7 separate regions of the Homo sapiens genome follow, and all the other regions are linked to region 1. The links come from fine-mapping of genetic effects on gene expression. A gene starts in region 1. Each other region holds a variant in brackets. All regions are shown on one strand. Distances are from middle to middle. Region 1 holds the start of CRIP2 (cysteine rich protein 2). Region 2 overlaps TEDC1 (tubulin epsilon and delta complex 1). Region 3 overlaps TEX22 (testis expressed 22). Region 4 overlaps MTA1 (metastasis associated 1). Region 5 overlaps PACS2 (phosphofurin acidic cluster sorting protein 2). Region 6 overlaps TEX22 (testis expressed 22). Region 7 overlaps PACS2 (phosphofurin acidic cluster sorting protein 2).

Evidence for each region. PIP is the estimated chance that this variant, and not a neighbour inherited with it, causes the effect.
Region 2: its variant is fine-mapped to the expression of CRIP2 in whole blood (TOPMed, PIP above 0.99).
Region 3: its variant is fine-mapped to the expression of CRIP2 in whole blood (INTERVAL, PIP 0.99).
Region 4: its variant is fine-mapped to the expression of CRIP2 in whole blood (TOPMed, PIP above 0.99).
Region 5: its variant is fine-mapped to the expression of CRIP2 in whole blood (INTERVAL, PIP 0.98).
Region 6: its variant is fine-mapped to the expression of CRIP2 in whole blood (TOPMed, PIP above 0.99).
Region 7: its variant is fine-mapped to the expression of CRIP2 in whole blood (TOPMed, PIP 0.97).

Annotation. Positions count from the first base shown.
Region 1 is chr14:105,473,278-105,477,339 of GRCh38, reverse strand. It overlaps CRIP2 (cysteine rich protein 2), which reads right to left and starts at 2,519. Exons shown (of 8, transcript NM_001312.4): 1 at 2,435-2,519. The coding sequence starts at 2,477. RefSeq lists silencers at 2,497-2,606, 2,787-2,856, 3,127-3,276, 3,367-3,456, 3,467-3,516 and an enhancer at 3,545-4,062.
Region 2 is chr14:105,492,783-105,496,844 of GRCh38, reverse strand. It overlaps TEDC1 (tubulin epsilon and delta complex 1), which reads right to left. Exons shown (of 9, transcript NM_001367178.1): 5 at 2,912-3,010; 6 at 759-965. Among named protein-coding and RNA genes, the nearest start is that of TEDC1, 3.6 kb to the right of the region's middle. The variant G/A (reference allele first, on the strand shown) is at 1,814.
Region 3 is chr14:105,408,257-105,412,318 of GRCh38, reverse strand. TEX22 (testis expressed 22) reads right to left here. Exons shown (of 4, transcript NM_001195082.2): 3 at 823-951; 4 at 1-659. The coding sequence ends at 486. Among named protein-coding and RNA genes, the nearest start is that of MTA1-DT, 9.5 kb to the left of the region's middle. RefSeq lists enhancers at 1-213, 214-717 and silencers at 789-918, 1,019-1,078. The variant G/A (reference allele first, on the strand shown) is at 1,599.
Region 4 is chr14:105,438,555-105,442,616 of GRCh38, reverse strand. MTA1 (metastasis associated 1) reads right to left here. Exons shown (of 21, transcript NM_004689.4): 2 at 3,878-3,945. Among named protein-coding and RNA genes, the nearest start is that of MTA1, 21 kb to the right of the region's middle. The variant G/A (reference allele first, on the strand shown) is at 2,157.
Region 5 is chr14:105,374,238-105,378,299 of GRCh38, reverse strand. It overlaps PACS2 (phosphofurin acidic cluster sorting protein 2), which reads right to left. Exons shown (of 25, transcript NM_001100913.3): 9 at 1,375-1,532. It also overlaps the pseudogene RPS20P33. Among named protein-coding and RNA genes, the nearest start is that of TEX22, 22 kb to the left of the region's middle. The variant G/A (reference allele first, on the strand shown) is at 1,665.
Region 6 is chr14:105,402,001-105,406,062 of GRCh38, reverse strand. All of the region lies in intron 2 of TEX22 (testis expressed 22), which reads right to left. Among named protein-coding and RNA genes, the nearest start is that of TEX22, 5.5 kb to the right of the region's middle. The variant A/G (reference allele first, on the strand shown) is at 2,292.
Region 7 is chr14:105,392,748-105,396,809 of GRCh38, reverse strand. PACS2 (phosphofurin acidic cluster sorting protein 2) reads right to left here. Exons shown (of 25, transcript NM_001100913.3): 23 at 3,965-4,062; 24 at 3,475-3,588; 25 at 1-2,256. The coding sequence ends at 2,138. Among named protein-coding and RNA genes, the nearest start is that of TEX22, 3.8 kb to the left of the region's middle. The variant G/A (reference allele first, on the strand shown) is at 1,722.

The DNA of each region.
Region 1 (4,062 bases):
TGGCTGCCACTGGCATGGAAGATCTGAGGGCAGCTGCTGAGGGTCCGGGACCCTCTGCCACTGCCTCCCACCCCCACACTGGGGCTACTGGACTGCTTCCCAGTGGATGGAAGCAGGGGCCTCCCTAGGGAGCCAGGCAGGAAGAGGTGGGGAGGGGCAGGAAGGGCCCAGCAGAGCCGGAATTCTGAAGGGAAGGGGACAAGCTGCAGGCCCTGGGGGGAGGGAGCATGCAGGCTGGGCCCACCCTGCCCGGCAGAATCTGGCCAAGCCCCTCAGGTGGCCGAGGACCAGTGGCTCTCCCAGCTCCCTTTCTCAGCAAGTGGCCCAGCCCCCTTTGTCTGGCAGATATCGGGGAGGGGCATCTGGCTAGGGCGAAGCCCACTCTGAGAGGCCCAAGGGTGCTGCTCCTGGCAGTGAGATGGGATCCCCCAGGTGGCCTACTAGGTAGAGGGCTGTGAATACTGGCTCTCCGTGGCCCTGGTACAACCCTCTGGGCATGGCCAGGGCCAGCCTCCAGGACACCAGCCCAACCACAAGGCTGCACCAGCTTAGAGCCCTCTGACCAGAACCACTCCACTCAAGGAAGCTGGGACACACCAGGGCAGGCAGGGGCTGGCTGCACGGTGGGCAGGCGTGTCCCAGCAGCAGCAAGGAAGTCTCGGTGGCTATCGGCCGTGGCAGCTGCAGCCCAGGGCTGCCAGCACTGTGCTCTGGCCAGCTCTGGGACGTGGGCCAAGTGGGGGCAGGGAACTGGCCCTCAGACCCACTGGGTGGGTCAATGGCCACACATTACGGGTCCGAGTTGGGAACACAGAATCGATTGGGTCTAATGGCTCAGAAGAAAACCAGCTGCCCACCCTGGCTGCATGGGCTCTGGGGTGGCCTCCTCAATGTGCTCCGACATCCCAGCCTGGGTTCTACTCAGGTATGAGCTGCGGGGGCAGCCTGGTGTGAGGGTGGGCAGGATTCTGGACCCTCGCCCTCACAGTGCCTCCCAGGCAGGACAGAAGCCAGCCGGGTCTGAAGCGCCTTTGTTTTCCGCTGAGAGGCTGGGCGGGCCAGGCAGGCAGGCCTTTCCGGGCTGTCCACAGGACTGTTGGCCGAGACCCTGGAGAGCCCCAGGCTGGCCTGGCCCGGCCTGGGGTAAAGTCATGGGCAGTTGGACTGCAGAAGGGCCCTGGGGACCGTCTCCCACCCTAAGCCTTACAGAGACAGCCCTCGCTGGGACAGAGACTGAGGGCTGAGCGGGCTCCAGGAGAGGCAGCCGGAAGCCCCTCGGCTCCCAGCCACGCCAGAAGCACTCCAGGCCAAATCCGGTCCCTCCCCTCTGGGACGGGCAAAATACAACCTCCCCTCAACCCCCTCCAGCCTGTGAGCCGGGGAAGCCCAGTGGCGGCCTTCCCTGCAGCCTGGCCGCATTCTGGGTATGGGGCGACCAGGGCAGGCGCCCTGTTGGTCCCGGCCCTCCTCTCTGCTTCACTAAGTCTGCCCCCCTTCGTGCAGCAGCTGGTGGGTAGGTGGGCAGGGACCTTACCACCCTGGAGAAAGCTGGGCAGCGAATCAGCCAGGAGGAAGGGGGTAGGAAGGGCGCACCCAGGCCCAGAGAGTGAGTAAGCCCAGACGGGGGGAGCGCGCCTGCCGGAGGGGCTAGACCGAGGGCCGCCTTGCGAGACATCCCTCTTCCCGCCACCACCTGCATCCTGTCCAGGGCTGTTCTGACCTTGAGGAGGCAGGGATCCTGGACACCTGGGCTGCTTGAGCACAAGGTCCCTCTCACGTTCGCGGGAACTCGCGTGTCACACCCGCCCCCACCCTACCCCCGTGTGAAACTCCTGGGGGAACTGGCGCCAAGGGAATGCGTCGGGACAAGCAGGAGGCAGAGGCCAAGGTCGCCCCCGCTTGGACTGAATCCCGACAGAGTCCAAACCTGGCCCAGCCCAGCTCAGCGGAGCCCGGAGTGGGAGCTGGGGGTCACTGTTCCCGGCCACTTGTTCCCGGGGGAAGCGGGTGTAGGGGGTCCAGGAGAAAGGGCCCAGGCCCACGGGAGCGCGCGGGACGCACCCGGGGCGTACAGCCACGCCCTGCCCCGCCCCGCCCGGCGCCGTCCGAGGAACCGGGATGCGTCCGCGGATCCCCGAGCGCTCCCCCAAACACTGGCCTCATCCCGGGGCACCACAAGCCCCGCCCGGGTGGTCCCTGCCCCGCCCCCACAAGCCGCTTCGGGGTTCGGGCGTGACCGCCCCCGCTTTCGCGCAGCCCCACCCTTTGGCTTTAGCCGCTTGGGCAGCGCGGCCAGCCAGCCTCCGGGACGCGCATCCTCGGTCCGGGGCCGGGGCCGGGCGCACCCCGAGTTACGCCGCGGCTCTGCGGCGCGGGACTGGCCGCGAAGGGCGGCGGGATGCACCGAGCGGGCCGGGAGCGGGCACGCACTCACCGAAGTACACGGTCTTGTCGCACTTGGGGCATTTGGAGGCCATGGTCGGTGCGCCCGGTCGGCCCGCGCCCTCCGCCCGTTCTCCTCCGGGCCGCCGCCGCCCGCGCCCAGCCCCGCCTGCCCGGCTGTCCGCGCGCCCATTGGCTCCGCGGCCGGGGCGGGGCCTCGATAACCCGTCCCCCGGGCTGGGGGCCGCCTGGGGGCGCCGCGGGGGCGGGGCGCACCTGCCGGGGGTGGCGGGTGCGGGGCAGCCGGGCCAGGCCTGGCGCCCCCGGGCCCCTCGCGCCGGAGGTGGCGTCTACAGGGGCCCGCCCGGGCGACCGCGGCGCCGCCCGCGCCCCGGCTGTTTCCATGGCGACGTCGGGGCCGCCTGGCCGGGCCGTCCCCGGGGCGGCGGGCAGGGTGCGGGGAGCCTGGCCCTCGGCTCTCGGGGAGCCCTAGTGACTTGGGCCTAGGGGTCCAACACTCCCGGCCCTGGGCGCCCAGGCTGCGCTCCGCCGCGGGAAGGGGTCGCAGGCTCCGGGAGAACCCCACCCCCACCCCGCCGCGCGCGGCGCCTGTCCCGCTTCCCTTTGTTGCTCGGTTTCCATAGCAACAGCCGCGCCGCGGGAGCGGAGTCAGATTCCCGGCGGGCACGGCCCCCAGCCCTGTCCGGGTCTCCATGTCCCGCTCCGCCCCCGCCCGCGCCCCGCCCCAACACTGTCTGTGGTGCTGAAGGCTCCTTGGGTGGAGGGCAGGGCTCAGGAAGGAAGGCGCCGCCACCTCCAGAAACAGCTCGAGAAGCTGCTGGTAGGGGGTGTGGGGAGGTCTGCGTCTGCCTCCCAGGCAGGGAAGGGGCGGCGGGCACCAGCGCCGAGGGATCCGCGCTTAAGGCGTCCACCCCAAGCACTTCCACCCAGGGGGCGGCCGGGGAGGCGGTGAGGAGTTAGGAAGGGAAGGAGGGGAAGGAGTGGGCGTGCCCTCTGTGCCCCGGGCTGGGGCTGACACTCCAGTCCCTTCTCCCGCACCGCCCAGGACCAGCTGCGTGCCTGGGGGCCCAGGGCCTGACCTCGAGGGGTCAGGCGGGAGATTGAGGGGTCATGCCAGTCACCGCACCCCCACACCCCCACTCTGGCCTCCTCCCAACCAGGGCGTGCCTGACCACGCCTCACCACAGTGCCTCCGCCCTAGAGCCCCGTAGAGCCTGGCCCCAGGTGGGGAACCTCCGCACCCACGGGCTTCCTGGTGCTCTGTCCCCATGGGCCCTTCTCTGAGCCTTCTGGCCCCAGCTGAGCGTCGGCCTGGGAGACAGGCAGATCCCAGAAGCCCAGTGATCAGGCCCTATGGGGGCAGCTGACTCTGGACACCCTTCCCCCTGTGTCTTGGAGGCTGTGGGCTGGACACGGAGACCTACCTGTTCCCTCTGCCTGGTGCACCAGGCATGTTTGTGAGCCAACCAGAGGCCCTCGGTGCTCCTGGCTTTCATGGTGGTCCTGGCTGGGCTCTCTGTGGCAGCACCCTCCTCCCTTGCACACACACCCTGCAGCCACTGCCATTTCCATGGTGACAGCAGGCCAGAAACATGCCCCCCGCCCCCCCGCCCGACTGACCAGCCTGACCAGCTCCCCCTCTGCACTTGGGACCTGTGC
Region 2 (4,062 bases), 20 kb before region 1:
AGGAGTCTGCCTAGTGACCCAGGTGGCAGAGAAGGCAGAGCTGAGCCACACTTGACATTCCCAAGTGAAGGGTCAGGCAGGGCCAGGAGACCCCGCCCTGCCTGCCCCATGGCCCTGCACAAAGGTACCTGCCCACAGTGCCCACAGACAGGCGGCTGGAGAATGGCCAGGACACAGCAGCTGCTCTGCCCACACACGGAAGGCCTCCCAGGTTCGCTCATGGGCTATCTGTACCAGTGACCCTGGGCCCGGGGCAAGGGGACCCCTGCTGGGGACAGGCCCTCTACACCTGAATCCTGCCCCACTCTACCCCTGCTTCCCCCGGGAACCCAGAGTGTGGAGCAGGCTGCAGGGGCCTGGGGCTCCAGCAGTGGGCTGGGGGGCAGATAGGAATGGCCTTGAACACCAGGTCCAACCCAGCCCCTCTGGGGCGGAGCAGAGCAGAGGCAGGCAGGCCTGCGGTCAGAGAATATGAGGACAGGGAGGTCTGTGGGCGGTGTGGGAGCTGGAGCAGGCTGGTGCCGGGGCTGCAGCCCACCTGCCCACCCCAGCACGCCACAAGAAGAGCAAAGGCCTCCACCATGGGTACGGCCGCTTCAACACACCTGACAGAAGGCAATCACCACAGTTCCCAAGAAGGTAAGGGCCAGGGGTGGGAGCAGGCAGGAGAGGAGGAGCAAACACACCCCCTCGCCACCCCCTCCCACCCACCCCCAAGTCCTGCGGTCTCCACTTCCCTGCCAGCCTCCCCGACTTACCGCCCTAAAAGGGGAGAGCAGGCTGCAGGCTGAGGCCCCACCAGGATCCAAGGGTGCTGCCCAGTCACCCGGCAGCAGACCTGGCTGCTCACATACCAGCCACAGATCATTCCAGAAGGTTCTGGGACCCATCCCAGGAGTGCAGAAGGAGTGCAGGCACTTTGGGTAGGCCAGGTCCAGGTTTTGGGCAGCTCCCGCTCCAGAAACCTTGGAAGGAAGCCAGCCATGGCCCCAGTCCACCTGGCCAGTGCCGCACACAGCTTCGGGGAGAGGGCGGGGCCTCACTTCCAGGCCCCCCCAGCCCACCACAGAGGGTGGTCCCACAGAGGCACTGGGCAGGAGCAGCCTGGGGCCAGGGCAGCCTCTCCTCTGCCCCAACCCAGGGGTCCCAGGGGCCAGAAGCCTGGGCTTCGCTGAGCCGCCTCTACAAGGCAGGTAGGGACAAGGGCAGACCAGGACGCCCGGATGCTGCCTCAGCACTGCCAACGCCAGTGCAGGCTGACTGGGTGGGCGCCAGCCCGGCTTCAGCCAGGGACACAGGTCCAGCTGGCACCAGGGGCCAGGCAGGCGTCAGGGGTTGGGCCCTGTAAGCCCATGAGTGAGGCATGCAATCCCCCAGGCTTGGGCTGCAGAGCTGGAACCCACAGGCCCTTGCTACGAGCAGGAAGCCCCAGCAGACACAAGACTAGGGGCCAGGAGCCAGGCCATCCGCCTCTGACCCCTAGGTCCCCCTGGGCAGGCCTGGGATGAGGTACAGGGGCCAAGTCTCTGGGATTGGAGAGGGAAGAGGCAGAGAAGGGGGACTGGGTCTGGAAGAAGAGGTCACACCAGCCCTGAGCCTCTGCCCTCCTGCCCGGCCATATGCACCTGGAGCAGGACAGTGCCAGCCCGTCACTCAGGACAGTACAGAGCCCAGCCCAAGTGGTTGGCTCACGCCTGTAATCCCAGCACTCTGGGAGGTCGAGGCAGGTGGATCACCAGAGGTCAGGAGTTCGAGACCAGCCTGGCCAACGTGGCAAAACCCCGTCTCTACTAAAAATACAAAAAAATTAGCC[G/A]GACGTGGTGACAGGTGCCTGTAGTCCCAGCTACTCAGGAGGTTGAGATAGGAAAATCGCTTGAACCCAGGAGACGGAGGTTGCAGTGAGCCAAGACTGTGCCACTGCATGCCAGCCTGGGCGACACAGCGAGACTCTGTCTCAAATAAATAAATAAAATAAATTAAAAGAGTGGCAGCCAGCCCTGCCCTATCCCCTGAAACCAAGCCAGCCAAGAGGAAGAAGCCAGTGATGACGGGCGGGCAGACCCCCAGAAAGAAGGATGAGGATGGAAGGCCAGCAGCAGGGTGCGAGGAAGCGGCCATCCCTGGGGAAGATGCCTGGGGCTAGGTCAACCCTAACACTTGGGTCAGTGCTCCAGCAGCCCCAGTCAGAGGAGGATGCTGTCTCCCCAAGGTCACACAGCCACCTGGGGCTCAGAGGCAGGTTTTCCTCCAGGTCTATGCTATCCAGGGCTCAGGATCTGCCTGGGACCACAGAGCCCCGGTCGCCGGGGGCAGGCCTGCCTAGAAAGCGCCGTGCCCCCGGGTGGTCCGGGTGTAGCAAGCAGAACGGGACTGCAAGTCTCCAGGGCCTATGGAGCTGGCTCCAGCTTGGGAGGCTCGGTCCAGCACACCCCATGTGGGCCTGGCCTTGGGTTCTGAAGGGCAGTTGTCCCCTCCCACAGTCAGCCCTGTGCCCAACCCTTCACCCAGTGTGGGCTGGCCCCCCACACCCCTAGGTGCCCCCTGACACACCAAGTGAGACCTGCTTGAGATGCCAACACCACCAGCTCACACCTGAGATCTGTGTTCCTTTATTCCAACAGCCTGCCCTTAGCCAGCTGCCTGCCCAGCCCAGGCTCCTGCGTCCTGGGCCCCCACCCGTGCCACGTCTTGATTTGTGGAAGGGAAGGGTGAGTGGCCCATGAGGCTAGGAGAGGCCCAGAGAAGCTGTCTGTCACCCAGGCTGGCAATGATCAGTGGCAGACATGCAGAGACACCCACCGCTGGAGGCCCAAGAGCTGCCCCGCCCCCAGGCCCCTCCCACCCTGGGCAGTCCCCCTGCTGTGCCCCCCAGCCCACCCCCACCCCCCCGCAGCAGCTTGCCCGCCCTCACCTGCTGGCCTCCCTCTGGGTCCCTGAGCATCTCTGCTTCAGTGACAGACAGATGGCTAAGGCTCTGGTCGCTGTGGCAGCCGCGTGTGTACAGGTGGATCTAAAACAGGTAGTGCAGACCCCAGGCTGAGTGGCAGTCAAGCACCTCCCCCAACGCTGAGTCTCCATGAGTCCAGGGAGGTCGGCCATCAGAGCCCACCTCCCAGATGAGGAAAGAGGGCTCAGAGAAAGCCACTCCTTGCCTGAGGTTGGCGGGGCTGGGCTGGGTGCAGAACAACCATCAGCACCGCTGGGGTCTCCTGCAAGGGGGCGCCAGGCAATTTCACTGATGGCCTCCCCACCCCGCCCAGCTTCCAAGCAGCAGCAAGATTGGAGTGGGGTGCCCTGGCTTCCCCAGCAGCATCGGGGGAGGAACAGCCTCTGGACAGGCACAGCAGTTCAGCCAGGCTCACAGTGGGGACATGAACGACTGCTTGGATCTAGGGAAATGGGGAAGGCTCCCCAAAAAAGGGAGGCTGGAAGGTGGCACAGAGGGTCACAGGTAGGCACATAAGTAAGCGGAGCAGCTGGTGCCAAGGCCAGGCCCGACGGGGTGAGAGGTCCCTGGAAAGGCCAGCTGAGCAACAGACCCTCTGCAAGGGTGGGATGGGGGGGTCTCCAAGGAGTCCCGCGCTGGTGGGAGCCCGCCGCTGCCACAGACCCACCTGTCAGCGCTGGCCTCACAGTGGACACACCACTGGGTACCTGTGCCCCTGAGCCAGCCCCTGCCACCTTCAGGACCCCACAGGAGCTGTCCACCCCGCAAGTCAGCCCCCACCAGGATGTGGTGGCAACAGGAGCTGTCTTCCTCCCCCTCCAGTGCCCAGGAGGGAGTGGCTTTCATGGCACAGACCCCATCCCACTGTTCACAGAGCTGGAAGTCCACTGGTAACTTTTGGGAACAGAAAGGCAAATTCTGTGAGCTCTCTGACACCCGTTTCTGCCCACCATTGCCCACCCCACTGGGCTCCCTGCCCAGCCCTGCCCCCTACAAGGACCACCGGGAACCACGGGCTCAGGCTTTGGGTAAGCCAGGGCAGGAAGGCCCACATCCAGCCAAAAGCCTGTGCCAGGCCTCACGGGACGGGCTGCAGGGACTGGCAGCTGGCGGCC
Region 3 (4,062 bases), 65 kb after region 1:
TCTTCAGAGGCAGGACCCAATGTGAGACCCCGCCCCCTGGAGAACTCTGCCTGGCCCATCTCACAGCCTGGTGCAGGCAGATACCCAGTTCCCCAGACCAGGCCAGCCAAGGAGCTGAGTCTCCAGGCAGCGCCTGCCACTGGGGCTTCCCAGGACACCAGTGCACCTCAGGCAGGCCCAGGTACCCCAGGCCTCCTCCCAGCGGCCCCGAGGGCAAGCTCCTGCTACCCAGGCCTTGCCAGGGCCCTCTCAGACTGACCCGGGGCAGTGTTCCCCTCCCCTAGATGGCCTCCCATAGCCCCTAGCCCGGTCTCCAAGGCCTCAGCAGCTGCAGGCTGTCCGGAGCCAGGTCCTGCCTGGCCTGTTTTCCTAACATGGGTGGGTGGTGACCCCCTGGTGGGGCACAAAGAAGGCGCAGAGGCTGCCCCCACCGTGGGCCCCCAAGGAAAGGCACTGGAAGACAGACAATGGGCTGAATGGGGCTCTTAGGAAGGGGGTGACCTCGAGGCCTCGAAAGTCGCATTATGCCAGAAAGGCGCACTGCGCGCCAGGAAGGCCTGGAAGGCGTTGGTGGACTCGGTGGACCTCAGCGGGTGGGGAAGGAGCACGTCCTTGTCCACGTCCTCCGACACCAGCTGGGCTACCATCTGCACGACGTCCTGCGGGCGAGGGTGGTCAGGGAGCCTCGAGGGGCGGGAAGGGGACAACGGCGGGGCCCGGGAGCGCCGGGGTAAAGGGCCCAGTGGGACTGAGTCGAGGGAGGCGAGGCGGAGGGGCGGGGCGGGGCGGGGACGGGGCGGGGAGGACCCGCCCCCCGCGCACCCTGCAGTGCAGCTGGGTCCCGGCGGCGCCCGGCCTCTCCCGGCCGCCCAGCGTGGCCAGCCGCCGGCGCTCGTCGATGCTGACGCTCCAGCGGCGGCCCGGGCGCCTGCGTTCCGGCGGCTCGCACACCTGGGGGACAGGGCAGCGGGTCGGCGAGGGCCTCGGCGCCAGCTCCCCTTCGCCGCTCCCACCCAGCACCCGCCGACCCTCAGAGCTCGCCCCCGGGCGCTTTCTAAAGCGCCGTCTGCTCAGCCTCCCGCTGCTCCAGCGCCAGCTCCCGGCGCGGGGCCTCAGGCAGTGTGGCCCTCTGTGGCTTTGCACAGTCATCTGTGCCAGGACACCGCCCAACCCAGTACCTGCCCCGCTTCATGTACAGCAGGGCTGCCTGTGGACCGCTTAGTCCTCACGGCCGGCCCCCGGCTTGACCGGCAGGAGAACCCCCGGAGCTCGAGCACTGATGCGTGCCTCAGGAAAGGCAGGACTAAGGCCAGCTCCAGACTGCCCTTCTCCCCAGACCCCTCTGAAATGATCATAAAGAGAGTTCGGGAGAAAATAAAGATCATGAATCCATAGACAAAAGACCAGCGCCAGTGGAGGAGGGCCCCTGGCAGGGTACAGGAGACTGGAGGGCAGGGACCACCAGCTGGAGAAGCTGTGGGAGGGCCACAGGGAAAGGCCAGAAGCAGGTGAGGTCCCCAGCACGACCTCTATCCCCCAAGAAGGAACTTCCCACGTGGGCTGCAGGAGACGGTTCCTCCAGACTCTGCTCAGCCTGA[G/A]GTTCACCATCCTCCACCTCCCTCACCAGGGGGAAGGGGAGAGGGGAGAGAAGGCAGTGCCATGCTAAGAGTGGGATTCATGCAAACCCGAAGTGAATTCTCATTCCTCAAAACATTAAAATCAGAATTGCATGGGATCCAGCAATTCCGCTTTGGGGTATGTACCCAAAAGAGTTGAAGGCAGGAAGGCAAACAGATGTGCGCACTCCAACACAGCAGTGGTCATTATTCACAATAGCGAAAATGTGGAAGGAATCCAGGTTTCCACAATGGATCAATGGATAAAGAAAATGTGGCAGATCCAGAAAATGGAATATTATTAAGCCTTAAAAAGTAAAAAGGCTGGCCGGGTGTGGTGGCTCATGCCTGTAATCCCAGCATTTTGGGAGGCCGAGGCGAGTAGATCACCTGAGGTCAGGAGTTCGAGACTAGCCTGACCAACGTGGAAAAACCCCATCTCTACTAAAAATACAAAATTAGCCAGGCGTGGTGGCACATGCCTGTAATCCCAGCTACTCAAGAGGCTGAGGCAGGAGAATCGCTTGAATCCGGGAGGTGGAGGTTGCACTGAGCCGAGATCACACCATTGTACTTCAGCCTGGGCAACAAGAGCAAAACTCCGTCTCAAACAAACAAACAAAAAAGGTAAGGAGGCTAGGCGCCATGGTTCACATCTGCAATCCCAGCAGTTTGGGAGCCCAAGGCAGGAGGATCGCTTGAGGCCAGGAATTCTAAACCAGCCTGTGAGACCCCATCTCTACAAAAGAAAAATTAAAAAATTAGCCAAGTTCAGTGGCACATGCCTGTAGTCCTTGCTACTGGGGAGGCTGAGGCAGAGATTGCTTGAGCCCAGGAGGCTGAGGCTGCAGTGAACTGTGATTTTGCCACTGCACTCCAGCCTGGGTGACAGAGTAAGACTCTGGAAAAAAAAAAAAGAGAGAGAGAAAGAAAAAGAAGGAAGGAAGGAGAAAGAGAGAAAAAGAACGAAAGAAAGAATGAATGAAAGAAAGAAAGGAAGGGAGAAAGAAACAGAAAATGTAAGAAAATCCTGGCTGGGCACAGTAGCTATAATCCAAGCACTTCAGGAGGCTGAGGAGGGAGGATCGCTCCATCCCCTTGAACTCCCCAGGAGTTCAAGGCCACAGTGAGCTAGGATTGCACCACTGCACTCCAGCCTGGGTGACAGTGCAAGACTCTGTCTCAAAAAAAAAAAAAAAAAGAAGAAGAAGAAGTCTTAATAGTCTAGGGCACCACCACACAGCAGCGCTGCAAGCTAGAAGGTGATGGACAAAGCCTTAAAATCCTGAAAGAAAATTATTTCCCACCTAGTATCTCACCCAACCAAGGTGTCATTCAAGCATACAGGCAGAATAAAGATATTTTCATATCTTTAGAGTCTCAAAAACTTTCACATCCTCTGAACCCTTTTGGAGGAAGCTGCTAGATGTACTCCACCAAAACAAAGGATAAACCAAGGAGAACAAGCTGGGGCCCAGGAAACAAGGGGTCCTGTAGACAGGAGGCAGGCGGATTGTAGGGGGAGGGGAGAGGGAGTGGGGAAGGCTACTCAGTGGCCCTGCCAGCTGGGCTGGTTGCTGGCAGTCCAGGGCTCCAGGAAGGCCACTGCCAAGGAGAAAACACAGCTCCAGACGACCCAATGTACAGGGGTCTGTGAGAGGAGAGTCCTAGATTTGTTGGAAGGTTTAGGAAAGAATAATCAGTTCGTAGAAGAGGGAGGAGGAGGAGGAGGAGCAGGAGGAGGGGGAGGGGGAGGAGGGGGGAACACAATGATTTCCTCCAGGGAAAACAGCACAAAGGCAACACGGCCATCCCACGGTCACGATGCCACATGGTCACTGTAAAGCTAACAGTGGAATTGGGTTTCTGCTGAGTAGACAGAATGCTGGTGGGAGGATGGGGAAGGGGCGCTACACCCTTCGTCTCTGCGGTGGGGCATGGACAGAATGCAAGACAGAGGAATGAAAAGGAGGCAGTGCGGCCGGGCACGGTGGCTCACGCCTGTAATCCCAGCATTTTGGGAGGCCGAGGCGGGCAGATCACCAGAGGTCAGGAGTTTGAGACCAGCCTGGTCAGCATGGCGAAACCCTGTTTCTACTAAAAATACAAAAATTAGCCCAGCATGGTGGCACGCACCTGTAATCCCAACTACTTGGGAAGCTAAGGCAGGAGAATTGCTTGAACCCAGGAGGCAGAGGTTGCAGTGAGCCAAGATCATGCCATTGCACTCCAGTCTGGGTGATGGAGCGAGACTCTGTCTCAAAAACAAAAAACAAACAAACAAAACACAAAAATTAGCTGGGTGTGGTGGTGGGTGCCTGTAGTCCCAGCTACTTGGGAGGCTGAGGCAGGAGAACCACTTGAACCCCGGAGGCGGAGGTTGCAGTGAGCCAAGATCACGCCACTGCACTCCAGCCTGGTGATAGAGTGAGACTCCGTTTCAAAA
Region 4 (4,062 bases), 35 kb after region 1:
GCGGTGAGGCCACACTAGGCCATTCTTTCTTCTCTTCCTTCGAACACCTTTGCTTCCTGAGATTAACAATCGTCTTTTTTCTCCACTTGCCTAGTTTTTCATGGAATCATCACAGATTCTTCCCTAAAGTGCTCGGCAGCAGAGCTCCCAAAGAGAAAGGGCTCATATCAGGGCGCCTGCGAGGCCCCTCCCAGAGCTGGGGTCCACCCTGCTTGCTGCCTGCACCAGGGGCCGCATCTTCCTGGGCGGGAGGAACCTGCGCCTCCCTCGTGTTGGAAAGGCGCGGAGGAGTGCACTCCAAGGCCTCAGTCAGGAAACCTCACTCATCTGCCTTCCGGGAGATGGAGCTTGGCTGGGCGTGGAGCCTCCACACCTGAACGCGGCTGCCGAAAGGCAAAGTGGGTTTTGACTCCGGTGCTTCGTGTGTGACCCACTTTTTCTCTAAACACATTTCTTCTCCCGTGTTCTAAAATTTTAAATACACCTTGAAGGGGCCCCTCTTTATTGCTTTGCTCGCTCCTTCTCTGCTATTAACTGGACGTTGGACCAATGGACTGATGTCTGATTTTTTTCTCTCCTAGTTTCTTTGTGTTTTTGCCCCATCTTCTGTGCGGTATCCTCAACTTTATCACCTGATCCTTTCATTTCATTTGCTACTTCTCCTAACCCAAGTGTCAAGAGCTTTCCTCTCATCTGACCACATCCCAGGATGGATCCCATCCATTTCTCAGAGAACATTCACGGGCTTTGTTTTGCTTTAGTTTCCTTCTGTTCCCTGCACTGGCCCTTCCTCTGAGTTCCTTTTTTACTTTTTTATTTTTTTGAGACAGAGTCTCGCTCTGTCGCCCAGGCTGGAGTGTAGTGGCGGGATCTCGGCTCACTGCAAGCTCCACCTCCCGGGTTCACGCCATTCTCCTGCCTCAGCCTCCCGAGTAGCTGGGATCACAGGCGCCCGCCACCACGCCCGGCTAATTTTTTGTATTTTTAGTAGAGACGGAGTTTCACCGTATTAGCCAGGATGGTCTCGATCTCCTGATCTTGTGATCCGCCCGCCTCGGCCTCTCAAAGTGCTGGGATTCCAGGCGTGAGCCCCTGCGTCCAGCCTCTGAGTTCAATTTTTACATGTGCTGGCTGACCTTCCTGTTAAAAGCCCCCCCGCCCCGCCCCATACGCCTTGCGGCTTTTCATCCCTGGGAGCCTCCCCGGTGCTGGGCAGCTCGCTGCATGGGCTGCACCCATGGGTGCTGGGGTAGCGGGCATTCTGCTGGGTCCCCGATGCCAGCAGCTGGGTCTGTGGGCTTTAGAAGTCTGGCCGCTAGGGTCCTGGGAGCCAAGGAGGCAAGAGGGGCGGGGGGGCCCACCAGGGGACAGGCCATGAGCCAGGCGATCCCCACTTCCAGCCCCCGCACGAACTGTGCTGGCCTGGGTCTGGTGCCCCAAATCTGGGTCCTCTGAGTCCACTGCTCCAGCCCAGGGAAGGGCTCTGTGGGACCACCTGACCCCCCAGACAGGCCTTCCGCGCTGCCAGCCACATGTCACCATGGTTCCTGTTCTCCCCATCCTGACCCAGGCCAGGGCCAGGGCCTCTCAGGTTGCCCAGTCTGCCTGGCTGCCTTCCAAGCTGTGCCCATACCTCCCAGTGGCACCGCCTCTCCCACCTTCCTTGCCCTGTGGGTGCAGAGCCCCAGCACCACTTTCTTGTTATTTGAGGGGGCGTTCAGTCCAGGGAACAGAGGGGAGGTCTGTACTCAACCAGCTGCGCCCACCTGGAAGCCCCGCCTGGAGCTCCTTGGCGTGGAGGGCACTGGCCGCACTCTGTCGCAGGCCTGCGGGTTCTTTTCCACATGGTGAGCGTCTGGCTCGGCTGCCCTGCCTGAACAGTCCAAGAGAGTAGTCGTGCCCCTCACAGGCTGGTGTCCCGCCCAGAGACAGGCAAGTGCCCACGCCATGTGGCCCTGGCCCTGAGGAGGAGGGAGTCCTAGGACGAAGGGGACGCCTCTGAGCGTGTGCAATGCTACATGTGTAACTGAACATCGCCCAAGGGCTGGAAGCCAGCCCCCTGCCTGCACACGCCTGCAATCTACTGTCTGCACATGGAAGCCGGAAGCAGCACGAGGGAACCTTCCTGACAGTGGCACCTCCCAGCAGTGGCACTC[G/A]GCCAGGCGCCCACGGAGGCACTGCAGCCTCCCGCCCCGGGTTGCCTGCCAGCTGGCTGTGTGGGGCCAGCAGTGCCATCTGCCGGCCGCCCCTCCACTACACAGACCAGGAGGGACACAGGACCTCCCCCAGCCATGGTTCAGCGTCAGCTGAGGAACCTCCCTCTGCACCTGTTTCCCTACAGTCCACATGCTGGGATGCGTAAAGTGCTGCCCCGCACTCAGGAGGCTCAGCCACAGGAGTGGCGCCCCATTCCGGCAGTACCCAAGTGGCCTTGCTCTGCAGGCGGGCAGGCCCTGCCCAGCAGGGGCAGTGAGGCAGACTCAGAAGACACCCAGGTCATTGCCTGTGCCTCCAACAAACAGGCCTGGCCCTCAGACCTCCCAGGAAGCTGCGGGGGAGCAGATGTCGCACCCCATGCTCCTCGGCCCCAGGTGGTGGCAGATACCGCAGGGAATGGCCCTCGACAAGCGCAGCCAGGGAAGCCCGGAGCCCAGCATGGCTACGTCAGAGGTGGCGCGCTAACCTTCCCCCCGCTGCCCCCTCTGATCCCAAGAACCCCACGTCACCGCTGCCACCAAGCCTGAGGTCCAGGAAGGCAGCTTCTCCCAGGTGAGCCTGCAGCATCCAGATGGAACACCAAGGGCCCGAGTGCCCCAGGCCTGCCGAGTGGGCAGGGCTCCTAGGAGAAGGCAGCCATCGGGCCACTGGCTCCAGGGGATCGGGGGCTCAGGAGCCCTGCAGGCAGGCACAGAGAGGTCTGTGAAGCACCCAGCACCCCACCCCACTCTCTGCTGGAACCATGTGTCCACTGGTGGGGACAACCTGCCCTCCCTCAACACCCTTAGAAAGTCTCCAACCAGGAGGAGGAGAAGGGACGCTGGGGGACCCACCCACCACCCCTGAGGACAGCGAGAAGGCTCCCAGGGTGTGCGGGCGCCCTACACCTCCATGGCCATCTACGGCTCTGTCTCCCGAGCTGATGGGACGGAGGCTGTGCCGAGGCAGTGGAGGCCAGGAGTGGCTGGGGCTGAGGGGCCCATGTGTCACCACCCCCCAGGAAGGATCTGGTGCTGCCAGGCTCAATGCATGGGCACAACCACGTCCCCCGACCAAACAGCAAGCAACTGCCAAGGACTCATGGCAGACACAAACCAGGTGGGAGCAAGGGCTGCCTGAGTGACCAGGGAGGGCGCTTCCAGCCACGCAGACACCTCAGGGTTGGGGGCAGAGCTCACAGCCCTGCAGGGCTGCCTGAGTGACCAGGGAGGGTGCTTCCAGCCATGCAGACACCTCAGGGGTGGGGGCAGAGCTCACAGCCCTGCAGGGCTGGCTGCCAGGGTTCGGGCAGGGCAGGGGCACCGAGTATGGCTTTCTGCAGCCTTTGGTTGGTTTCAGAATCACACCATTCCGCTCGGGCTCCCCAGGGGACACTGGCATCTTCAGGGGACCCAGCACCCACAGACCAAGTGTAGAGTGGGCAGGCAGCTCAGGGCAGCTGCGCTGGGTCCTGCATGAGGCCACCAGGCCCCTCACTCAGTATCTCCAAGGAGGAGCCACGGTGCAGGTGACAGTGGACGGAGTCACTGAAGGGCCTGTGCAGTGGCCAGTCCAAGATCAGCCCCGAAAGGGGGCCACCCACACTGGCCACCCACAGGGCAGGAGCTGGCGTAGCCCCCACCCACTACCCCCCTGCAGCAACACCAGGGCCCCCCAGTACCTTGTTGAGCTCCTCGATTCTCCGGATCAGGTATGGGTTGCTGGAGGAGTTCTCAAAGTAGACGTAGTCTGCAAACAGCAACAGAGAGAGTGCCACCTGTGGCACCAAAGGCCAGACCCAGTCCCACCTCCCGTGGCCCAGGGACTCGGGGCTCAGGCGGGGCAGTGTCATCCCCTCACCTCTGC
Region 5 (4,062 bases), 99 kb after region 1:
GAGACGCACACGCCTCTCCTCAAACTATGAATGCTAGCTGGCCAGGGCTCTGCAGATACAGCCAACACCACGGAGTTTAAGATGGGAGAGGATCTGGGCCACAAAGATGTCTCCTATGGAATCACGTGAGCCGTTAAAGACAGAAAACTTTCTCCGGCTGAAGGCAGAAGAGATGAGGCAGGAAGGCCAGGGAGGCCCAAAGTGTGAGGGGGACTTCACTGGGCCTTGCTGGTTCCGAAGGTGGAGGAGGGACCCTGGGCCAGGGTACGAGGACGGTTGCCAGAAGGCAAGAATGACCAACGGCCACCAGGCGGCAGGGCAGCCAGACCCCCATCCCGCAGCCACACGGAGCTGAACTCCACCAACCACCACGCTGGGCCTGCACTGCATGACCTCGGAGCCCCAGTCAGGGCAGCCACCAATACCTCCACCCGAGCCCAGCGAGACCCTGGCCAAGAATGAGGCCACAGCCTCGGGATGGCAATCTCCAGAACAGGAGGAACAGAGGCTGTTTCTGGTGGCCACATCCGCGGTCACCTGTTATGGTGGCTGCTGGCAACTGAAGGAGCAGCAAGTTGGGCTGGGGCTGCCAGGCCGGGGCAGGTGAGGTGGGAGGCCGCTGCGTGGCTGCAGGGCTAACTGGGGCCGCGCCTCCAACATGCAGCAAGGCCACCTTCTTCGTGTTGTTTAGGTTAAAAAAGTGTGAGAGCAAAAGGTCTACCAAGCTTCCTGACTCTGACTGGGGCCTCTGGCTCCTCAGCAGCTGCCCAGAGGCTGGCACCTGCCTTCTGCCTGGTGTGCTTGCCTTCCTGCCCCCAGCTGACCGAGGCCTCCATACCCAGACCCATGCACAGAGCTGCCTGCCCTGCATCCTCTCCTCCTGCCCAGGCCAGGCCACCCCAGCCAGCCCCTCCTCCCATCCAGCCACAGAGACACCTGCCCTCCCCCTCCCCACCTGCCTCTGCCTCCTCCTCCTCAGGGAGGGGCACCCAGCATGGGAGCTCTACTCCCCACCTGAGTGAACGGAGGTCCCCTGCAGTTCCCAGGGCATCCCCCAGAGACGGATCCCCTACAACGGGGTGCCACACCCAGCCCAGCCAGCACCCTGGGGGACCCCTCTCGGTCCTCCCCAGCCCAGAGCTTGCACCCCCTGGCCTATGAAAGGAAAGCTGCCTGGCTCAGTGCAGCCGTAGCCTGGGCCTGCCAGGCAGCCGCACACCCCTCCTTCCAGCCACCAGAGCCTTCCCAGGCTTCGAGGCAGCTGGCCCTGCCCACCCCGTCTCCAGGGCTGGACATGGGTCTGCCAGAGTGGTCGCAGAGTGGCCGGGGCATCTGAAATGGCTGTTCCTCCCCGCCCCGCCCTGTAGGGCTCACCGCAGCTTCGGCTTGGGGGTGCTGAGGACGCTGTCGTCATCCTCCATGTCGGGGCCGCTGTCGCTGGGGTGCTCCATGTCCAGGGTGTCATACAGGAGGTCCAGGTCCTCCTCTGCCTCGGGGATGTGCTCCGCAGGGTCCTGCTCCGAGTCCAGGACCTGCACGGGTGCCAGGCACGCGTGAGTTCCCTGCAGCAGCCCACATTGCCCCACTGGGGGCGCCCGAGACCCCAGAGTCTGCAGGAGCAATAGGAGGCGGGCACCCAGCCACCAAACCCCTCCACTCAGCAC[G/A]GCTGTAGTCCAGCTTCTGTCTTGGAGCTCGGGATGATCACCGAGGACCCCCGGTCCCCAGGTACCGGTGCGTGTGGCATTCCTCCACCTCCCCTGGGCTGGTGCAGTCATCTGGGCTGCCAGGGTGCACGGAGGGCCTGGGTGCAGGCAGGTGAGCTCTGACGGGTGTGGGCCACTGTGCAGCCACCACCAAAACCAAGACAGAAAGTGCTCCCCACACCCAGGAGGCTCCCCTTTGCCTTCCTCTAGTGCGTCCCCTCCCTCAGCCCCAGGCCCTGCGAATCTCACTCTGTTCCTGTACATTCTGCCCTTTCCCGAGTGCTACCCAAAAGGAATCATGTGGCCTGCAGCTCTCGGTGGCGGGGGGAGGAGGGCGTCATCCACCCAGCGTGGCACACTTCATGTTCCACTGTGTCCCCACCCAAGTCTCACCTTGAATTGTAATCCCCATAAGCCCCACGTGCCAAGGGCAGGACAAGTGGAGGTAACTGGATCCTGGGGGTGGTTTCCTCCACGCTGTTCTCATGATAATGAGCACATCTTAAGAGATCTGATGGTTTTATAAGCATCTTGTATTTCCCCTGCAGGCACCCACTCCGACCTGCTGCCCCATAAAGAAGGTGCCTGCTTCCCCTTCTGCCATGATTGGCAGCTTCCTGAGGCCTCCCCAGCCATGCTGAACTGTGAGTCAACTAAACCTCTTTCCTTTATTCACTTCCTCTGATGGTTCTGCAGTGCGCCACTGAGTGGGTGGACCCCAGTCTAACAGATCACCAGCTGACGGGCATTATGACCATCACAGATGAAGCTGCTGTGAACGTCTGAGTGGGTCCATGCATGTGTGTGTTCACCTCCCTGAAGTCAACACTGAAGAACAGGGGTGCTGGGTGTCTGGCAACTGCTTCCTGTGGCTGCCACACCACCTTACATTCCCCCAGCAGGGTGTGGGTTCCTGCTGTTACACCTCACCCTGTTGCATTTCATTTGTTCCAGCCATCCTAGTGGGGATCAAGTAGTGTCTCATTGTGGTTTGGTTTACATTTCCCTAATGACCAGTGATAATGATCATGATGATCGTGTACTTATTGGCTACTTGTGTGTCTTTGAAGAAATCTATTTAGAAAGATCCCTATTTTTTTTTTTTTTTTTTTTTTGAGATGGAGTCTCGCACTGTCTGTTGCCCAGGCTGGAGTGCAGTGGCACGATCTCGGCTCACTGCAAGCTCCGCCTCCCGGGTTCACGCCATTCTCCGGCCTCAGCCTCCTGAGTAGCTGGGACTACAGGCGCCCATCACCACGCCCGGCTACTTTTTGTATTTTTAGTAGAGATGGGGTTTCACCGTGTTAGCCAGGATGGTCTTGATCTCTTGACCTTGTAATCCACCCGCCTCGGCCTCCCAAAGTTCTGGGATTACAGGTGTGAGCGACCACACCCAGCCCCCTGCCCATTTTTTAATTGGACAATTCACTGTTCTTTGTCTTTGAGAAAGGGTCTTGCTTTGTTGCCCAGGGTAGAGCGCAGTGGCACAATCATAGTTCACTGCAGCCTCGACCTCCTGGGCTCAAGTGATCCTCCCACGTCAGCCCCCAAAGTGCTGGGATTACAGGTGTGAGCCACTGTGCCTGGTTCTGACAAGTGATAATCACTTTATTAAAACACTTGGCTTAAGCATCTGCAATGGTGATGTCAACCGCGGCTCGCAGCTCAATTCCAACAGAGCAATCAGCCTCACAATCCAGGATGGACCAGGCAGGTCCACGAGCTGCTTATGGATTCTCGTCTGGAAGTGATCCTGTGTCTGAGAACCTTCACCACAAGGTGTGTTTCTCTTAGTGATTCTCAAAGACTTGGCAGGCATCAGAACTGGTTCTTTCACTTTGAGATTGTTTTTCTCCGTGCCCCTCATAAGCCAGCACACACCTCCAGGGATTTTACATTGCAGCTGGTCAGGGTAATTCTAATTCAAGGAATCACTCCACGGGCTCCAGAGGTGTCCTCCCGGTGTCTTTAAAAGCCGTGGCCACGAGGCGGCTTCCTGGTCGACTTCTCAGTACAAGTGGACAGCAGCGAGTCAGGGCAGGAGTGGGCGGGCCCCAGCTCCGTGGCACCTGAGGCTGCATCGTTCTCAAAGCAATGGACAGTTCAGCTTTTAACTAGACTGTCTGTGTCTTTATTTTTCAGTTATAAGCATTCTTTATGTGTTCTGGATTCAAGCCCCTTATCACATATATGATTTGCAAAAAACATTCTTCTGTTCTACTGTTCGGTTTTCTTGATGGCACTATTTGGTGCACAAAACTGTAAAATGTTGCTGTGGTCCAGAAAAACTTACCTTTTGTTGCTTATGCTTTTGATGTCACATCTAAGAAACCCCTGCCTAACCCAAGGTCATAAGATT
Region 6 (4,062 bases), 71 kb after region 1:
CAATACCACTTATTGAAAGGTCTGTTTCTCACTACTCTGAAATGCCATGCTCAACATAAATTAAATCCCCACATTTATGCACAGGTTGGTTTCCGGGTTACTTGTCCAGGCAGTGGTGTCTTTGCCACCTTCTGCCACAGGGCCACACAGTTTTAGTTGTTGGAGCTGGTGCGGACAAGCCAGGCCTTGCTCTTATTTTCCAAAATTGTTGTATGGTTCCTTTTCCAAGTAAACATTTTAAAACATCTTTATTTTTTCAAATTATACTTTAATGAATATTGGCAATATCTTGTTTACTTCTGCATGCTTTTGAACTCTGAACAAAGCCACATGGCATGAATAATTTTGTCACCTTTTTGCCTCTTTCACTCAGGAACAGGTCTATGAGACTCACGCTCACGGCTGCACGCAACAGGCGTCCACACAACCACATTCCCAAATCCGAGGTAAGTTTGCTGTTTGACAGAAAAATGCAATGTGAACTGATGCACGGCCGTTTGGTGTCCATCTTCACCCTGCGGTTGGAATATTCCTGTGCTTACCGCTGCACACGTTCACAACCCTACCGCTGAATTTGGTTGTTTTCAACCCACTCTGACAATGTCTGTCTTTTAACTGGAACACTTAGTCCGTTTTCATTGACTGAATTAAATGACGTACCGGCGATTCTATCTGCCATCGTATCTCCTTCTGTTCTTCTGCTGTAATATGTGAGGGCAGGCAAACTCATCTAACTCCAAAGATGACAAGCAACTCGATCTTTTTTTTTTTTTGAGTCAAGGTCTGGCTCTGTTGCCCAGGCTGGAGTGTGGTGGTGCAATCTCAGCTCACTGCAGTTTCCGCCTCACAGACACAAGTGATCCTCCTGCCTCAGCCTCCACGTAGCTGGCACTACAGGTACATGCCACCATGCCTGGCTAACTTTTTGTGATTTTTTTATAGAGATGGGGTTTTGCCATGTTGCCAGGCTGAGCTCAAGCAATCCTCCCACCTAGGCCTCCCAAAGTGCTGGGATTACAGGTGTGAGCCACCATGGCCCACCCCCCTCCTCTTCTCAGAGGAACTGAGAACACTTTAGTTCCACTCACAGGCACCATCTTGACATTTATGCCATTGCAGGTACATATATTGATTGTATCCTTGCTTTTCTGTGCATGAGTGACATCCAGTGACTGTCAGTTTCAGTTTACTCAGACACTTCCTACTTCCTCTCATGCTTTATCCATTTCAGACCTTTCATCACTTTCATGATGCTTTGAGATCATTTCTTCAGAACTGAGGTGAGAGTGTGCTGGGGGCAAATTCTCTTTTTTATCATTTAAAAACTTTACTTAGCCCTTTGTATAATCCATTTTTGCTGGGCCTGCTATTCCAGGCTGAGCATGGCTTCCCCTGAGCACAGGCATGCTACTGCTCTACTGTGACGAGCTCCCGTGGCTGCTTTGAAGGTTCTGTCTTCCCACTCAAATTGCTTCTGAGGTTTTTGTCGCTGGCATTCTACAATTTCACTATTATGCTTCTCAGTACATAATTTCTTAAAGCGTATAGACTAAATGACTGCCTGTGAGAGCTGTCCTCCAAGATGGCATCCAATGATCCTCACCTCCTGGTATCCATGCCCCTGTGTCGTCCCCTCTCACACTAAATAGGATGACCAGTGTATCCAAAACGGATACTGTAGAAAGAGAGGAGTGTGACTTCCAAGGTTAAGTCATGGAAGTCATTGCAGCTTTCAGCTCACTCTCTCCACTCACTCACTCTGGGGGAAGCCAGCCCCCATACTGAGGATACTGAAGCTGTCCTATGGGGAGATCCACGTGGTAAGGAGCTGAGCCTCCTGCCAGCCCCTATCATGGACTCGCCAGTCATGTGAGTGAGCTGCCGTGGAAGCAGTCTCCAGCCTTCCTCAAGCTTTGAGATGACTGAAGTGTTGACTGCTATCTCAACTATAAGCTCCTGAGAGATCTCAAACCAAAGCCACCAGCTAAGCAGCTCCCAAATTTCTGACCTACGGAAACTAAGATAAAAATACTTACTGTTTTAAGTTGCTAAGCTCTGGGGAAATTTGTCATGCAGCAATGGATAACCAATACATTGCCAAAGGCTGGGTATGGTGGCTCATGCCTGTGATCCCAGCTCTTAGGAAGGCCAGGAGTTAGAGACCAGCCTAGGTAACATAGTGAGACCCTGTCTGTAATTTTTTTTAAAAAGTAAACTAGTAATACATTTCCAGAATCACTATGTACATTTAAAATGAAATTTTCAAGATTCATGAAGTCTGTTTTTTTAAA[A/G]AACACTGAATTGTTTTTGGGAAGCTTGGCATGTTTAAAACGTTAAATCTGGCTGGGCGCAATGGCTCATGCCTATAATCCTAACACTTTGGGACCCCAAAGCTGGAGGATCACATGAGCCCAGTTCAAGACCACACCAGGCAACACAGTAAGACCCCATCTCTGCAAAAATTTTTTTAAAATTAGCTAGGCATGGTGGCATGCCACTGTGGTCCCAGCTACTTGGGAGGCTGAGGTGGGAGGATAGCTGGAGTCCAGGAGGTCCAGGCTGTAGTGAGCTGTGATTAGAGAAGCAGGAGTCTAGGAGAGCCAGGATAACATCATTTTATGTTCAACTCCACCTTGAGACTAATAGAGCACATTCCTTACAGGTCACAACCACGGACCTAAGATGTTTACAGCTAAGGAAGCAGCTTGGTAATGCCTACAAGGACAAACTCATAGAAAAGGAAGTTCAGATGTCCCAACACCCACAATAATATATGCTTTCAAGATAATTATAGTGATGCTTTAATGTACTTGCACACTAAAATGTAAAATAGTTTCCTTTTAATCAATAGAATAATAAATTGTTATGCTGTCAGCCCACCCACACGTAGGCACAGCTTGGTCTTTACATAGATAAGACCTCGATATAAGAAAAACTAAAAACAAAGTAGGTCTGTTCCTCTGCTTGCTTGTTGAGGATGCCCTGCTCTGCAGTGGAGCGGCTTTCAATAAATGATCTCTTCTCACTGCACTCTGCAGCTCGCCTCAAACTCCTTCCTGCATGAGATCCAAAAACCCTCTCTTGGGGTCCAGATGGAGATCCCTTTTCCAGTAACACTGTGATCATACCACTGTACTCCAGCCTGGTGACAGAGCAAGACCCTGTCTCAAAAACACACATATGAAATCTGCCCATCCAATATGATAACCATCTCCATCAGGAGCTCTACATGCTATTCAGTAACATTGTAAAGTGTTCTTCATGAAGGAATTGAACAACAGGTTTCTCTTTTTTTTTTTTTTTTTTTGAGACGGAGTCTCGCTCTGTCGCCCAGGCTGGAGTGCAGTAGCGCAATCTCGTCTCACTGCAAGCTCCGCCTCCCGGGTTCACGCCATTCTCCTGCCTCAGCCTCCCGAGTAGCTGGGACTACAGGCGCCCGCCACCACGCCCGGCTAATTTTTTTGTATTTTTTAGTAGAGACGGGGTTTCACCGTGTTAGCCAGGATGGTCTTGATCTCCAGACCTTGTGATCTGCCCGCCCCAGCCTCCCAAAGTGCTGGGATTACAGGCGTGAGCCACCACACCCGGCCAATAACAGGTTTATTTCTAAGAACTTCATAGTTCCTGTTGCTAAGTTGAATAGTATCCTTTGCTTCCATTCCATTTTCTGCTTTTTACTGTGTTGAAAAGTTGTGAATGGTGATCACATATCCAAACTCCCTCTTTTATCTGTACTCATGTTTCTTAAATTGGATTTTCCAAGTAGGTAACATATTAGATGCAAATAGTGATTGTCATCTTTTCAGATATTTACACATCTCATTTTCTTGATTTACTATAAGGGCTTCGGTTTCCAGAATACTGTTTATTTACTTTTTTGAGACAGTCTCCCTCTGTCGCCCAGGCTGGAGTGTGGTGGCGGAATCTCGGCTCACTGCATCCTCCAACTCCCAGGTTCAAGCAATTCTCCTGCCTCAGCCTCCCAAGTAGCTGGGATTATAGGCACCCACCACCATGCCCAGCTAGTTTTTGTATTTTTAATAGAGACGGGGTTTCATCCCA
Region 7 (4,062 bases), 81 kb after region 1:
AAGAGCAGGCAGGACGCGGTGACTCACGCCTGTAATCCCAGCACTTTGGGAGGCCGAGGCGGGTGGATCACTTGAGGTCAGGAGTTCAAGACCAGCCTGGCCAACATGGCAAAACCCCATCTCTACTAAAAATACAAAAAAAATAGCCAGGTGTGGTGGCACACGCCTGTAATCCCAGCTACTCGGGAGGCTGAGGCAGGAGAACTGCTTGAACCTGGGAGACGGAGGCTGCAGTGAGCTGAGATCATGCCACTGCACTCCAGCCTGGGCAACAGAGCAAGACTCCATCTCAAAAAAAAAAAAAAAAAAAAAGAAAAGAAACTGGAGAGCAGAAAAACAGATGCTCTGCAGCCCAGCTTGGGGGCAGCTGAACGAGTCAGTCAGGGTCCCACCTGTTGCCGGGGTCAGAGGCCATCAGCCCGGGGCTCACACCCTCACCGCAGACACTTCTCGGGGCAGAGCCTGAAGCCAGGATTCAATGGGAGACCTTCCTACCCTCTCCCCCACCCTGGGGTGTGCCCCAGGCTCCTGGTCCCAGGTGAAGGAGGAGTCCCTGGTGTGGAGGGGCTCTGGCTGGGAGGGGCTGGGGCTCTGCCTCCTGCACACAGGCTACCTCTGAGGCCTGAACCCAGGGAGCTGAGGCTGCACACCAGGCCACATCCTGGCCCCTCACCACAACAAAATCACCCTGTTCAGCCACCTGGGGGGGGCGGCCAGGAAGAGCAGGGCGGTCACAAGTAAGAAATGTGGGCCATCTCTCAGGCCAGCAAGGGTGGAGACCCCTCCAGCCCCGGCTCGAGGCCCACCCTGCCCTGCGTTTGCTTTCTGAGCATGGCCTTTTGCAGTGCTCCATCTTACGAAACCAGGCCAAGAGCCCCCAGGGTCGATCAGGACCCCTGGGAGGGCCCCAGCTTCCCCAGCTCCTCCTATGGAGACCCCACAGTGCAGGCTTACTGGGGAGAAGCAGGACTGAGGGGGCAGGTGTGGTCAGGGAAGCCCTCTCCTGCTGTGTGGAGGGCATGGAACCCACACACAACATGGGACCCAACACGCTCTGAGGACTGTGGCCTGGAGAGCCTCCCAGGCCCTGCACGGGGTACCTGGCTGCACCCACGGCTCCAAAGTGCCGGCCCCGCTGGTCAGGCCATCCCGCTGGAATCTTCATTGGCTACAGCGTTGCAGCAGGTGACACAAACACATCTGGACGCCTGCCCCATATTCACCAAAACCTGAATCTCAACCCAGATATCCCCATGGCTGACCTCAGACATACCCACTGGGGTGGAGGAAGTGGCCCCCACCTCAGGCCAACCCCAGCAGCATCTCACTATGTACCAAGCTGGGCTCTGGAACATTTTCTGGGGCCACCTGGGCTGTGGAGGCCCCTGTGCTTGCTAAGTTTGGGGCAGGGACTACACGCAGAAGCCTCATGGTGTTTCAAGAACAGCCTGAGAGTGGGGAAGGTGTGAGGCGGGGTGGGGCAGGGGCTGGGGAAGTGGGGGCAGGCTCTGCTGGCTCTGCCCAGCCCCAGGGGGACTTCAGAAGAGCAACATGTTTGGCAGCTACATTAGAACATGTATTGAAAAGCATTAAAAATATCTGCTGCTATAAAACCTCCGCCGCAGGCAGGAGTTTATTGGGAACCACGAGTGTGCGGTGCTGGGGGCATCTCTTAGGCGGGCAGGACGGCCCCCCCAGGCTCAACTCAGGACAACCCCAAC[G/A]GGACTGAGCGGCCCCATGGCCCTCGGCCTGTGGCCACTGAGCTCCGCCTTCCCCGGGCTCCCTGAGGAAGCAGAGTCCTGACTTCCAGGAAGGACAGGACACAGAGGCAAGAACTCAGCCTGTGAGGCTCTGGGTGGCTCCTGAGGCCAGAGGACGCCTTCCGCGATCCATGGCTCAGCATCGTCCTTCTGGCTTCCCAGCCCCGGGCCGAACGTTCGGGTTAATAAGCAGAGCAGTTATTCGGCTCCTGGCAGGAGCTCCCCCGTTAGTTTCCACGTTGTGAGCACATTCATACTTAAGACTGTTTCTCTTTGTGTTTTAAGCGTCTGTCTCTGTAGTAAACTGAAATGTTAACAGAAATGCAGCTGGGCCCCTCACAGCATGGGGCAGGAGGTGGGCCCCCTGGTGGGTGGGGCTAGAAGGTGGCCTTGGAGTGTCCGAAGATGCAGATGGGGAAGTGCTTCACGTGCGAGGACCACTGCGCGGCCAGCTGGAAGAACTTGACGTCGCTGCACTCCACGCCGTCGATGAGGACTGTGGGAGAGGGCTGCCTGACCGCCTGCCCCCCTGCCCGGCCTGCCCACCCTATCCACCTGCCTGCCTGGCCCACCAGGCTGGGTGGCAGCCGGGCGTACAGGATGAGAAGGAGCCCCATGCTGGAGGGCATCAACACTTTCCTCAGGGACTCGGGGGCTCCAGGGCCATGCTGGCTCCTGAGGGACGCCATTCCTGCCCCTGCCCTCCACACTCAGAGCCCTGGGGGGTGGGGAGGGCAGCATTTCCCCCAGGGCTGCCTGCAGGTGGAAGGAGCAGACCCCACCACCTTCCGCCAGGCGCTGCTCGTCCACATCCACTTCCACCTGCACAGGTGTGGGAAGAAGACAGTGGGAGCCCCCTTAAAACAGAGACCCCTGTGGGGAGACAGGGCCACGTCGACCTGGAGGTCATCTGACCCGTGCTCAAAAAGAGGAAAGCCTCCCAGAGCTCCGTTTCTGAAACAGTTACTTGCAGAGTATCTTCTCCAAAACCCCTTTTTTTTTTTTTTTTTTTGAGGCGGAGTCTTGCTCTGTCACCCAGGCTGGAGTGCAGTGGCGCAATCTCGGCTCACTGCAAGCTCCGCCACCCGGGTTCACGCCATTCTCCTGCCTCAGCCTCTGCGCTCAGCCAACACTTTTAAACTACAAGCCATTATTTTTAGGCCAGGTGCGGTGGCTCGCGCCCATAATCCCAGCACTTTGGGAGGCCGAGGCAGGCAGATCACCTGAGGTCAGGAGTTTGAGACCAGCCTGGCCAACACGGTAAAACCCCATCTCTACTAAAAATACAAAAAATTAGCCGGGCGTGGTGGCACGCGCCTGTAATCCCAGCTACTTGGGAGGCTCAGGCAGGAGAATCGCTTGAACCTGAGAGATGGAAGTTGCAGTGAGCTGAGATCACACCATTGCACTCCAGCCTGGGTAACAAGAGCAAAACTCTGTCTCAAAAAAAAAAAAACCAAAACAAAAAACAAACAAGAAAAACGAAACAAGTCATTATTTTTAAAAAGCAAAAAGGGTTGAAAAAAAATTCTTTCTCAGCATTTGGAAGGTTGTCAGCCTCACTGAGGGCTTCATCGAATGTGCTTGCACCTTGAATCGTGGAATGTGCGTGTCACAGCGAGACACCCGCAGCTCCTAGGCTGGGCTCCAAAGCAGCCTTGCTGTGCTCTCACCTACGTCCCACTCTACAGACCCCGGGGCCGGTGGTGCTCACCCCGCAGCATGTTCTGCTGCTGCCTGGCAGTGCAGATGAGCCGGCTGATGCCCTCAATGCACTGGCTCTTAGACTCCACGTCCTTGTCCTTCGCTTTCTTGGGCAGAAACATCACTGGGAGGAGAAAAGAGGCCCTGCTGTCATCTTGCTGCTCCTTCGGGGCTGGGGCCAGGGCCAGGGGTACGTGTGGGGGAGGCACTGGGGGCTCAGCTGGTCATGGCACTGCTCACCTAGGAAACCTGCCTTCCACGGTGACTGAGGACAGCTGCTCTCCTGCCCACCCAGCTGGCCTCCGCCTGAGGCTCTGGTCAGAAGCACCTGACCCTCACTGCCCTCAGGATTCAGGCTCCCTCACCCCACCCGCCCCTGCCTGCGCATGTGGGCTGCCCGAGGCCAGCCCGGGGGCTGTCATCCCTGTTGACTGCGAGCCGCCCTCTCCCACAGAGCCGCCCTTCTGCGCCGTGTGGCCTTATAGCCTGCCCCACCTCACCCTTCTTGTTCTTCTCCTTGGTGACCACGGTCATGGACATGGTGGGCGTGGCTGCAGCCTCGCCGCTGCTGGGCAGCCTGCTGACCTGGAGGGACCGG